Homo sapiens: one gene and its partners. The protein of the gene in region 2 purifies or fractionates together with the protein of the main gene of each other region. This does not show direct contact. Each region holds a gene or a part of one and is shown on either strand. Other genes may lie near its edges. The genes, in order: EHMT1, ZNF462 and AIFM1.

Region 1 (3,653 bases), about 31 Mb from region 2:
TCCTGCGGTGACTGGGAACGCAGTTTCTTGTCCGCAGTTTTTACCATGAGATATCTCGACTGGTGGGTTTGCACTTGAGCTTGTGGGGCTGGTGGGCAGACGTCTGCCGGGCCTTCCAGCCTTCAGCTTCATGTGTGGGACGCGGAGCCCCATGAGCTTGAGGGGCTGGTGGGGAGATGTCCGCCGGGCCTTCCAGCCTTCAGCTTCATGTGTGGGATGCAGAGCCCCATGCTGACTGTTGTCTTGTGCTTCCCACAGACCCAAGAAGCTTCGCTTCCACCCAAAGCAGCTGTACTTCTCCGCCAGGCAAGGGGAGCTTCAGAAGGTGCTCCTCATGCTGGGTAAGTGCCTTCCTGCGGCCCGGGCACATGCAGCCGGCCCTGTGGCACTGAAAGAAGCCGAGAGCAGTTGTTACTCCTTCCTCAGGAGGCTGGTCTCGTTTTGGTTTTCTGTTTCTGTGTCTCCGAGTTCTCTGATGAGTGAGAATAGGTTGCCCACTGGTGTTGAGGCTTTTTATGGTGTTCATATCCAGTTACGCAAGATATTAGAACTATTCTCTACGAAGTTCTAATTTTTAAAAAGGAATTGGTATGTGATTATTAAATCAAGCAGAAATAGAGATTAAGGAAAAGCAAAACTAGTGAGTTGTGGCCCTGAGATGTGTGGTGATGACGCTGAGATGTGTGGTGATGACGCTGAGATGTATGGTGATGATGCTGAGATGTGATGACGCTGGGATGTGTGGTGATGACGCTGAGATGTGTGGTGATGACGCTGAGATGTGTGGTGATGACGGCATCACTGAGATGTGTGGTGATGACGCTGAGATGTGTGGTGATGACGCTGAGATGTGATGACGCTGGGATGTGTGGTGATGACGCTGGGATGTGTGGTGATGATGCTGGGATGTGTGGTGATGACGCTGAGATGTGTGGTGATGACGGCATCACTGAGATGTGTGGTGATGACGCTGAGACGTGTGGTGATGACGCTGAGACGTGTGATGACGCTGGGATGTGTGGTGATGACGCTGGGATGTGTGGTGATGACGCTGAGATGTGTGGTGATGACGGCATCACTGAGATGTGTGGTGATGACGCTGAGACGTGTGGTGATGACGCTGAGACGTGTGGTGATGACGCTGGGATGTGTGGTGATGACGCTGAGATGTGTGGTGATGGCATCACTGAGATGTGTGGTGATGACGCTGGGATGTGTGGTGATGACGCTGGGATGTGTGGTGATGACGCTGAGATGTGTGGTGATGACGGCATCTCACTGAGATGTGTGGTGATGACGCCGAGACGTGTGGTGATGACGCCGAGACGTGTGGTGATGACGCCGGTATGTGTGGTGATGACACTGGGATGTGTGGTGATGACGCTGGGATGTGTGGTGATGACGCTGAGATGTGTGGTGATGACGGCATCTCACTGAGATGTGTGGTGATGACGCCGAGACGTGTGGTGATGACGCCGAGACGTGTGGTGATGACGCCGGGATGTGTGGTGATGACGCTGGGATGTGTGGTGATGACGCTGAGATGTGTGGTGATGACGGCATCACTGAGATGTGTGGTGATGACGCTGAGACGTGTGGTGATGACGCTGGGATGTGTGGTGATGACGCCGGGATGTGTGGTGATGACGCCGAGACGTGTGGTGATGACGCCGAGACGTGTGGTGATGACGCCGGGATGTGTGGTGATGACGCTGGGATGTGTGGTGATGACGCTGAGATGTGTGGTGATGACGGCATCACTGAGACGTGTGGTGATGACGCTGAGACGTGTGGTGATGACGCTGGGACGTGTGGTGACGACGCTGAGACGTGTGGTGACGACGCTGGGACGTGTGGTGACGACGCTGGGACGTGTGGTGACGACGCTGGGACGTGTGGTGATGACGCTGAGATGTGTGGTGATGACGGCATCACTGAGATGTGTGGTGATGACGCTGAGACGTGTGGTGATGACGCTGAGACGTGTGGTGATGACGCTGGGATGTGTGGTGATGACGCTGGGATGTGTGGTGATGATGCTGAGATGTGTGGTGATGACGCTGGGATATGCGGTGATGATGCTGAGATGTGTGGTCATGACGCTGGAATGTGTGGTGATGACGGCAGTCGATGTTTCACCTGTGCTGATCGCAGCAGCTGTGGTGTGGACAAAGTAGGCTTCAGCTATAGGTATTTTATAACAGGCAAACCGATTGCATTAGATTTCTAATACGCAAAAGCATACTTGTTAGAGAGCCTTCCCAGTGATAATTTGGTCTCTGAGCTCATAGCTTTAGGCTTGATTTCTCTGACGTTCATCGTCTCTGGGTTGAAAAGGATGATTAAGAAGCCCTTTACTGGACAGTACGTCAAGTAAAAAGAAGTGAAACTATTTGCTTTTAAAGAAAGGTTTATTTATGTTGACCAGCAGTTTTAATCATTTTGTCATGGACTTCACAGGACACCTGTGAAGGTCACCTCACTGCTCCGTTGCTCACCGTCCTCTCAGACCTCCTGGGAATTGACCGATGCTCAGGCCTCTGTCCCCGGCCTTGCTTGCTCCCCTAGGGTGTGTCTGCCCTGGTCAGCCGCCTCACTGGGCCTGGGGCGGCCATGGCCAGGCCACACAGAAACACAGAAGGAACCTCAGAGTTAGAGCAGGGTGGTAAAGGGAAGAGCGTGCCTTGCCGAGTTAGTTCTGACAGAGGGACCTGCCTGTTCAATTCCGCAGGAGACTAGCACACTCAAGTCTCAAGTCCAGAGGATGGTGCTGTGGGCGGGTTCCGGCGTGGCTCGAGGTGGCTGTTTATGTGGAGGATGGTCATTTGTGAGTGCTTGCCAGCCATCGTGACAGTCCTGAGCTGGAGTCTGTGGCTACATCTGAAATCATTAATAAAACTGTGTTTGTTCACAGTGGACGGAATTGACCCCAACTTCAAAATGGAGCACCAGAATAAGCGCTCTCCACTGCACGCCGCGGCAGAGGCTGGACACGTGGACATCTGCCACATGCTGGTTCAGGTGCGGCGGCACGGCGCCCTCCTAGGGCTCTTCACCTGCTCTCTTTTATTTTTACCAAAGTAAAATCATACCACGTTCGCGGTTCTTCCAGTGTAAGAGTTCCGTAGTGCTGTGAATCGGGCACAGAGTCAGCTTTTCTGCCCCCGAGTCCTGCAGGTGGATCAGTGCTTCCCGCTGTTTCTTCCGGCATTTACCACGGCCTTTGAGAAGAGCATGCCGCCATTTGGCTGTTTCTTGATTTGCTTTCTTTGGTTTTGGTTTTGGTTCTTCACACTCATGACGTCCCTCTGGGGGAGCCAAGCACTCGCAGAGGCACGGACGCCCCTCCCCCAGCCCCGTTGACTGGCTCCCATTTTGTTTAGATCAGATCGTGTGAGCATTTTCAAGCTGAACCACGTCGTCTACAGGGTATGTTGTGTCTGTCGTTAATCACTGGCTTGTGTTTCTGTTGGTTGAGTTGACTCTGCCACCTGCTAATTTATTCTGAACCATCTGAACGCTGCCCGCTTGTCTCTGGGTTCAGACACACGACGCTGTTTGTCCCCCTGTGACGCCCCTTCCCTGATCCCGGTGTTGGATCCCCTGTTTCTCAAGTGCCAGGTTTGAGTCTGGTGCAGTCTGACTTCTGATCC
Region 2 (3,653 bases):
TCTTTGGCTATCCAGGGTGTGGTTCCATGGGTTGTTGTAAAGATTAAATGAGATAACACAGAAGACCTTCACCCAGTTCCTAGAATATAACAATCACCTAATAAATGATAAGCCTGCAATGTAGGTGTTATTTTTGTGATTTCACAAATGGGAAAATAAGGACCCAGGAAATTTAAGAGCATGTTCAAAGTAAAAAACAAAACAAACAAACAAACAACAACAAAAAATATAAACCCTGGAGACCAAATTCAATTCAAATTTACATCTTCTGGCTCCAAAGGCAAGCCCTCTTCTTACCCTGCACACCACTTTCCCAGTGCTTCGAGTAGTGTAATCTTCACTGAAGGGGACCTGACCCTGAAATCTGTGGATTCAGTGGCCCTTGGGACCTTGCTGTAAGGAGCAGTTTTGCAGAATTTCTTTGTGTTTTCTGCTTGTTCTGTCTGCAAACATTAAGGAAGCCTATTGGTGGGCTACTTCCCTCCAAGGTGTTCCCTGTTCCTTTTCCTGACTTGCACTCACCCTCCTACCATGATGCCAGGGCTAAAGACTATGGGTTTGCGAAGGGGGCCCCAGTTTGGCTCTTGAACCCCTGACCAAGACAGTCAGCAGGAAATGACAGCCAAGGTACACTACCCTTTCAAAAACCCTGTGCCTGTATTAACCTGAAAAATACATGGACAAATAAAACATCCTTACCATATAGGTTGATTGTTCTTATAAAGTTATTATTTTTATTAGTAGAGGCTGTATTAATCCATTTCTTACAAGGAAAACGGTTGTGATCGGAGAAGCATGGCTTCTTTCTTTTTTCTTTTTCAAACCATTTCATGAGTATGTTCTTTACAATGATTTCTTAACATCTCTGCACTGTTACCGGAGTTTTCTGGGAGAGGATACTTTTGACAGAAAGACTCCTTTTTCTTCATGACGCTCTGTGGCCTTGCCTTTTCTCCTCTGGAAATAAACTGTTTCTCATTGGATATTATTATGGCTTTTTAATCTCTAAAGCTGAGCATGTGTGATTTCAAAGGTTATAAGCATTATAAAGGCAAAATACCCTTCTAGGCTTCTGCTCCCCTATGACTCCTTATAAAAAAGAAAAGGAAAGAAAGAAAACTCGAATTTAAAACATGGTGGTTGAGATGTGTGTGGTATACCAGGCAGACCTCCTTATTTTACCCTACTTGGCAGCCCCCTTTTACTTGGCACTGTGGCATTACACTGGAGTGGTTTGGCTGGAAAGAACTTCAGGGTCTCCTCTTCTCACTGGAAAAAGTATAGTGTCCACATTCGTGAGCTTTACCACATGGGGGAACAAAAAGCCCTCAGGGTGGAGAAGCACGTATTCCTCTCAGAGGGTGGGGGATTTACATGAGTAACTTCCAGTCACATTAATGGGAATTACAAGCCTAAACCTTCCCTTCCCCCTCGCCGATCCTTGAAAGAGCAGCCTCCTTTGTCCCATCTCTCCTTTGAATAGACCAAGAATCAACTTTCCACCATCTAGGTGTATTCTTGGCAGGAAAAAGAAATACACACAATAGCCTCGGGTGTTTCTGCTAGACATCCCAGCTTCTAGGAGCAGAGGGCAGGAGGTGGCTTGCGTGCAGCTCTCAGGCTGGTGGAGAGCTCTTGGAAGTGTGGCCAGTGCCCAGTGGCCTCCTCCTTTGAGGATGGAACTTAGTATGTGCCATTGGAAAGGACAGATGACTGGTTTCCTATTTACAGATTAAGGGTAAAGAAACAAGTGTACCAGGAACATTATTCCTCTTGTTGGCAATTTAGACTTTTATCAGACACCCTCAGTTTAGGGGGTTCACAGCCTCGCAGCCACCCCACTCCCTACCTCCTTTCTAAATGCAAGTGCCGGACTGAATATGGACACGCTGCAGGTCCTGCCTAGGAAGCTCAGGGAAGATTTGAAAGAGAAGAATCCAGGCATGAAGAAATCAAAATTAACCCAAGCAGAATCCTCCCCACCCCCCTCTCATTATGCAGTTGGGGAGGAGTCAGGAAGGCATTCTGTTGATTTCTTGCCCAAGATAATCCCTGCTAAGGAATTAATGCGCAGAGCAGATGGTGCTGTCTCATTTCCAATGAAAAGAATCAAGGAAGATAGTCTGTGCAATTATTTTTAATGGCTTGTGTGGTGATCTTCTTAATTTGTGAGAAAATGTTTCATCTTTTGTTAAATCTGGCCCCAGTCACATAGCTGTTTGTGCTGAAGATTAAGGCATCACAGAGCCCCCCATCCTGTTAACATCGTCCTGAGAATCTTATTAGATGGGGCATTTCAACCAGGAGGCATCTTCCTGTAATGTCTTGTATGTGTGGACCAGAGTGATCAGAGTGTAAAGATGATCAACACTTCCCTGTGCGATGCCCTCACTTTGCAACACGGCTGCAGAACTGGCAAGGTCCTGCTGTTTATTACCTACATGAAGACTTGGCCCTCTGTGGTATAATGAAACACATATGGGCTAGGAACTCGGGCTAACACAATGGCCATATAATCTCTTATCTTTGAGTTTGCCAGGAGACGTGGCCTGAAAACAGTTAAACAGCCAATCCACATTTATCAGACTTCTACCATGTGCCTAGTACCATGGAGGAAACAAAACAACTAAGTCAATATTTGATGTTTACAACAGACCGTCCAGAAATGTCTGCATATCCCCGTATTCATGAATACCACCAATTGAGGGGTAGGTGCCAGGCAGCTGGCCAGGATCTCTCAATAGCAGGGGACATGTGTTCACATACTGGTTCCCACTCATCCAGATAAATGTTCATGGTAGATTCTTCGCTTGCAGATCTCATTCAGTGCACATAACCGCCCTGTAAGGTATTGATTATAATGTCTATGATGGATGACCACAAGTCATGAGCCTTCAGCCTTACTTGGAACAAGTAGAAACCCTGAGGTCCACAACACATAACCTGGTCCAGGGCTTTCGGTAGCCTATGTTCTTTTCAGTGAACAAAGATAAACCTGTGTCAAAAAGGAAATGAATAGATGCTAGCCTGTGAGGCACTGATATAAATCATCACACAAGGGAGAGAATAAATCGGAAAAAATAATGCTCAGATTCCTTTGGAATCTCGGGCAAGCGGCTCTTCAGTCAAGAAAGACCCAGATTTTGTGATAGAAGCATTGGGGAGGTGAGGCGAAATGAGGTCTTGGGGCCCAAGAACCAGAAACAGTTCTCGAATGCTATTCAAGGAATGCCCTAAGGGGGAAACCTAAGAAAAAGTGAGGAATCTGGAAATTGCTTTCACCACATGGCTTTATCAGTGAAGGTAGGAGAGAGGGTATCCTAATGAATGCTGACTTACCTATTCTGCTGATTCCCACAGCACACAGGTAACACTTCTGCTTTCTCTTTGCAGAGCTGATGAGATTTTCTGACCACGGGGCTGCTCTTAACACTGAGAAGCGTTTTCCATGTGAATTTTGTGGACGGGCGTTTTCACAGGGCTCTGAGTGGGAAAGACATGTGCTGAGACACGGCATGTAAGTTGGGCCACTTCAAGGATGCCTTTGTCCAAAGCAAGAGGTAGGGAGGGAGGGAGGGGCTCTTGTTTTGGTTCCCCTGACAGTATGTACACCCCTCTGTGTCACATTTCTGGGCCGTGGGAGGAGAGGCAAT
Region 3 (3,653 bases), on a different chromosome or scaffold from region 2:
CATTCAGACACAGAGGAGCAGATAGGTTAGATAATAGACATTTTCTGTTCTATAATATTTTGTTTGGTCACCAAACAGTGCTGCCCATGTTATCAAACTGATCACCGACTCCCTGACTTTAGGTTCAAATGTTTGAACGTTTTTCTCTATTTGGAATCCTTCTCACCTCTTTAAAAAGGAAACTGAGCTCCTTGTGGGCAAGGATCCTGGCTTCCTGGACACTGCCAAATGTGACTTCGTTTTGAAGCCTAAAAGATGAGTCTTCCCCCGTTGTTTCTGCTGAGACAAGGCTTTGCAGAAGAAATTCTTTGGCAGCTCAGCCCTTTCTGTAACCAGTTAATAAGTTACATTTTCTAGAAATGTTCTAACTTTTTGAGGGAGTTACTGCATGTCTTAGCTTTCTTCTAGATCATGTTTCCAAAAGTTGCCTGCTCATGTGAATCGAGTAGAGAACCAGTTCCTAACCTTCTCCAGGAGATAATTCTGGGAATCTGTATTTTAACAAGCCCCTTGACATTCATATGATCAGACAAGTTTGGTATATACTGTTTTGGATGAGTAGTGACTCTTCCCCTTCTGTTTTGCTGACGTAAGGATTAAAAAACCAAACTGAGCAATCTGGAGTCTCTTGTGATTTGTATCAAGCTCATTTTCTCATATTCAGAATAGTAGCAGCCATTCTCCTAAATTAAACACTACCTGAGGACATGGATTATGTCCTATTTATTTTTGTGTCCTTAGCATCTTGTACCATCTCTGGCACATGGTAAATTCTCGTGACTGAACCCTAGTACAGCATTGTGAAGGACTTAACTTTGCAGAAGAGAGATTTTATTTTGTTATCTAAATAATTTTTCCTTGTGTGTCTTTCATCAGAATGGTTCACGCTGTACTATAGTTATTACTACTCTGTTTCTTCTAAAATTCCAGCAAGGGTTGATATTAAAAAATTAAAAAAGGCTGATAGCTAGGCGTGGTGGCTCACGCCTGTAATCCCAGCACTTTGGTATGCCAAGGTGGGCAGATCACTTGAGGTTGGAAGTTCAAGACCAGCCTGACCAACATGGAGAAACCCCGTCTCTACTAAAAATCAAAAATTAGCCAAGCGTGGTGGCACATGCCTGTAATCCCTGCTACTCGGGAGGCTGAGGCAGGAGAATTGCTTGAACCCGGGAAGTGGAGGTTGCGGTGAACCGAGATCACACCACTGCACTCCAGCCTGGACGACAGAGCGAGAATCTGTCTCAAAAAAAAAAAAAAAAGGCTGATAAATAGTTGTTGGATCCCTTGTAAAGAATCATTTATCTACAATGGACAGACTATCTAGGCTTGTCCTGTGTTTTTTTTTTTTTTTTTTTCTTCAAACAGAGTCTTGCTCTGTTGCCCAGGCTGGAGTGCAGTGACACAATCTCAGCTCACTGCAACCTCTGTCTCCTGGGTTCAAGTGATTCTCCTGCCTCAGCCTCCCGAGTAGCTGGGATTACAGGCACCTGCCACCACGCCCAGCTAATTTTTGTATTTTTAGTGGAGACGGGGTTTCACTGTATTGGCCAGGCTGGTCTCGAACTCCTGACCTCGTGATCCGCCCACCTCGGCCTCCCAAAGTGCTGGGATTACAAGTGTGAGCCACCGCACCTGGCTGTCCTGTGTTTTCTCCATGCTGGAAAAATCAGTTTGACCCTCAGGAAACAAGTCTCAAGAACGTATAGATCTCTTAACCATTTAGGATCCCTGGGTGCCTCAATTGTGAAGTTGTGTTTTTGGAAAACGCCTTTTGGGAGTATGGAAAAACAGGAAATCACAAAACCTACAGAAATGAACTTGCTAGTTTAGCTACTATTCTAATGCTGGTCTATGGTGTTTGAGGTTACTCATTTATGATTAAGCAACCTAAAATAAATGGAATCTGGCTAAAGCTTTTTTTAAAAAAAACTCTTAAGTTTATTTTTTCATTTTATTTATTTATTTATTTATTTATTTATTTATTTTTAAGTAGAGACGGGGTTTCACCATGTTGGCCAGGCTGGTCTCAAACTCGTGGTCTCAAGTGATCCACCAACCTCGGCCTCCCAAGGTGCTGGGATTACAGATGTGAGCCACCGCGCCTGCCCTGGCTAAAATTTCTTTGCAAAGAATTATTTAAAATGTTCAGTTATCCGGGCACGATGGTGCATGCCTGTAGTCCCAGCTATTCTGGAGGCTAAGGTGGAAGGATCACTTGAGCCCAGGAGTTTGAGTCTAGTCTGGGCAACATACTGATACCTTTTCATTTAAAAAAAATTTTAATAGTAATAAGAATGTTCAGTCAATATCAATAGAATTAGGAAGAATTTCTATTTCCTTCCTTCATTAATTCAACAAATATTTATTGAGCAAACATCTGTGTGTCGTCTGGCGCTGTTGCACAGGTCAAACTGGCTTCTTAAGAATGAAATCCTAAGTGTGAGGAAGAAATTGCATTGTATGTGTGGTCTGACTGCAGAAAACCTAAAATAAGTAAACTGCTGCCATGATGAAAAGTCAAGGAGTAAGTTGGCTTTTCCATGTTAGTAAGACAAGTGAAAAGGCATGTTTCAGTCACGATGTAATATTTCCTAAAATTTTGAAGCTATGGGGAGAAAGGTTTGGGAGGAATTTCATAGGGAAAAGAAAATGTGGGGAGGGGGAATGTAAGCAAACAATACTTAGTACATTTTACAAAATTAAAGTCACTTTGTAGGTATATAAAAAGTTTTAAAAGTTGGTTTATTAATGAGAGTAGTGTATTACATTTCTTTTCAAGCAGTAGTTTAAATATTAACCAGTTTACTTTTTTTTAAAGTCAATTTACTTTTCCAGCCTGGACAACATGGTGAAACCTCGTATCTACAAAAAATAGAAAAATTAGCTGGGCGTTGGTGGCTCACGCCTGTAGTCCCAGCTACACAGGAGGCTGAGGCTGGTGAATGGCTTGAGCCCAGGAAGCATAGGTTGCAGTGAGCCGAGATTGTGCCACTGCACTCCAGCTTGGGGACAGAGTGAGACCCTGTCTCAAAAAAAAAAAGTCCATTTACTTTTAAATGCTTTTTTCTTTTTTTTTTGGCAAATTGAGACAAAAGCTGCTGAACTTTCCTAAATCTACACTGTTAGTATTATCAGTTTGTGAAAAGCAAGCAGAAGGAGAATAAACATGAGTATGATATTAAAACAAATTTGTTATAATGTCTGTATTTAGGGTCTTCTGGAGGAATAAACAGAATTAAAAAAAAGAAAAACAAAAACAAAAAAAATTTATTTTTAGTAAATGAACCAGGGGTAGAGGTGGAGGACAAACTAAATTCATTGAACTAAATCACATGGAACTTTTCCTAACCAGTTTCATTTTCTAAGCTCTGAGAGTTACCACTTTCTACTTCTGATGGTTCATTATTTTTGTAAGCTTCTGAAAATCAAAAGCTTGCCCAGATTGAGATAAGTTTCTGCCCCGCTCACGTTTTTATTTTCATGATTTGTCATTATTTCCAAATCTCAACCATTTTATTTCATGTGGTGATGAAGAGTTCTAAAAGCAGGTAAGAAGAACAGTAAAGAAAAATACATTTCCTTTTCTAAGAGTGTAGATCTAAAGTCTCTTATCTGTAATTCAGAAATTGAAATTGTAGAATGACCAAAAT

The links.
Region 1: the proteins of ZNF462 (region 2) and EHMT1 purify together in Homo sapiens (affinity purification with mass spectrometry; 3 studies listed by BioGRID and IntAct, with this or other methods). This does not show direct contact.
Region 3: the proteins of ZNF462 (region 2) and AIFM1 purify together in Homo sapiens (affinity purification with mass spectrometry; one large-scale study listed by BioGRID and IntAct). This does not show direct contact.

The regions. Positions count from the first base shown.
Region 1 is NC_000009.12:137,779,377-137,783,029, forward strand, and holds part of EHMT1 (histone-lysine N-methyltransferase EHMT1), read left to right. Parts: intron 1-258; coding exon 259-341; intron 342-2,914; coding exon 2,915-3,021; intron 3,022-3,653. UniProt on the Homo sapiens protein: Histone methyltransferase that specifically mono- and dimethylates 'Lys-9' of histone H3 (H3K9me1 and H3K9me2, respectively) in euchromatin.
Region 2 is NC_000009.12:107,006,152-107,009,804, forward strand, and holds part of ZNF462 (zinc finger protein 462), read left to right. Parts: intron 1-3,393; coding exon 3,394-3,517; intron 3,518-3,653. UniProt on the Homo sapiens protein: Zinc finger nuclear factor involved in transcription by regulating chromatin structure and organization. Involved in the pluripotency and differentiation of embryonic stem cells by regulating SOX2, POU5F1/OCT4, and NANOG.
Region 3 is NC_000023.11:130,159,219-130,162,871, reverse strand, and holds part of AIFM1 (apoptosis-inducing factor 1, mitochondrial isoform AIF precursor), read left to right. Parts: intron 1-3,653. UniProt on the Homo sapiens protein: Functions both as NADH oxidoreductase and as regulator of apoptosis.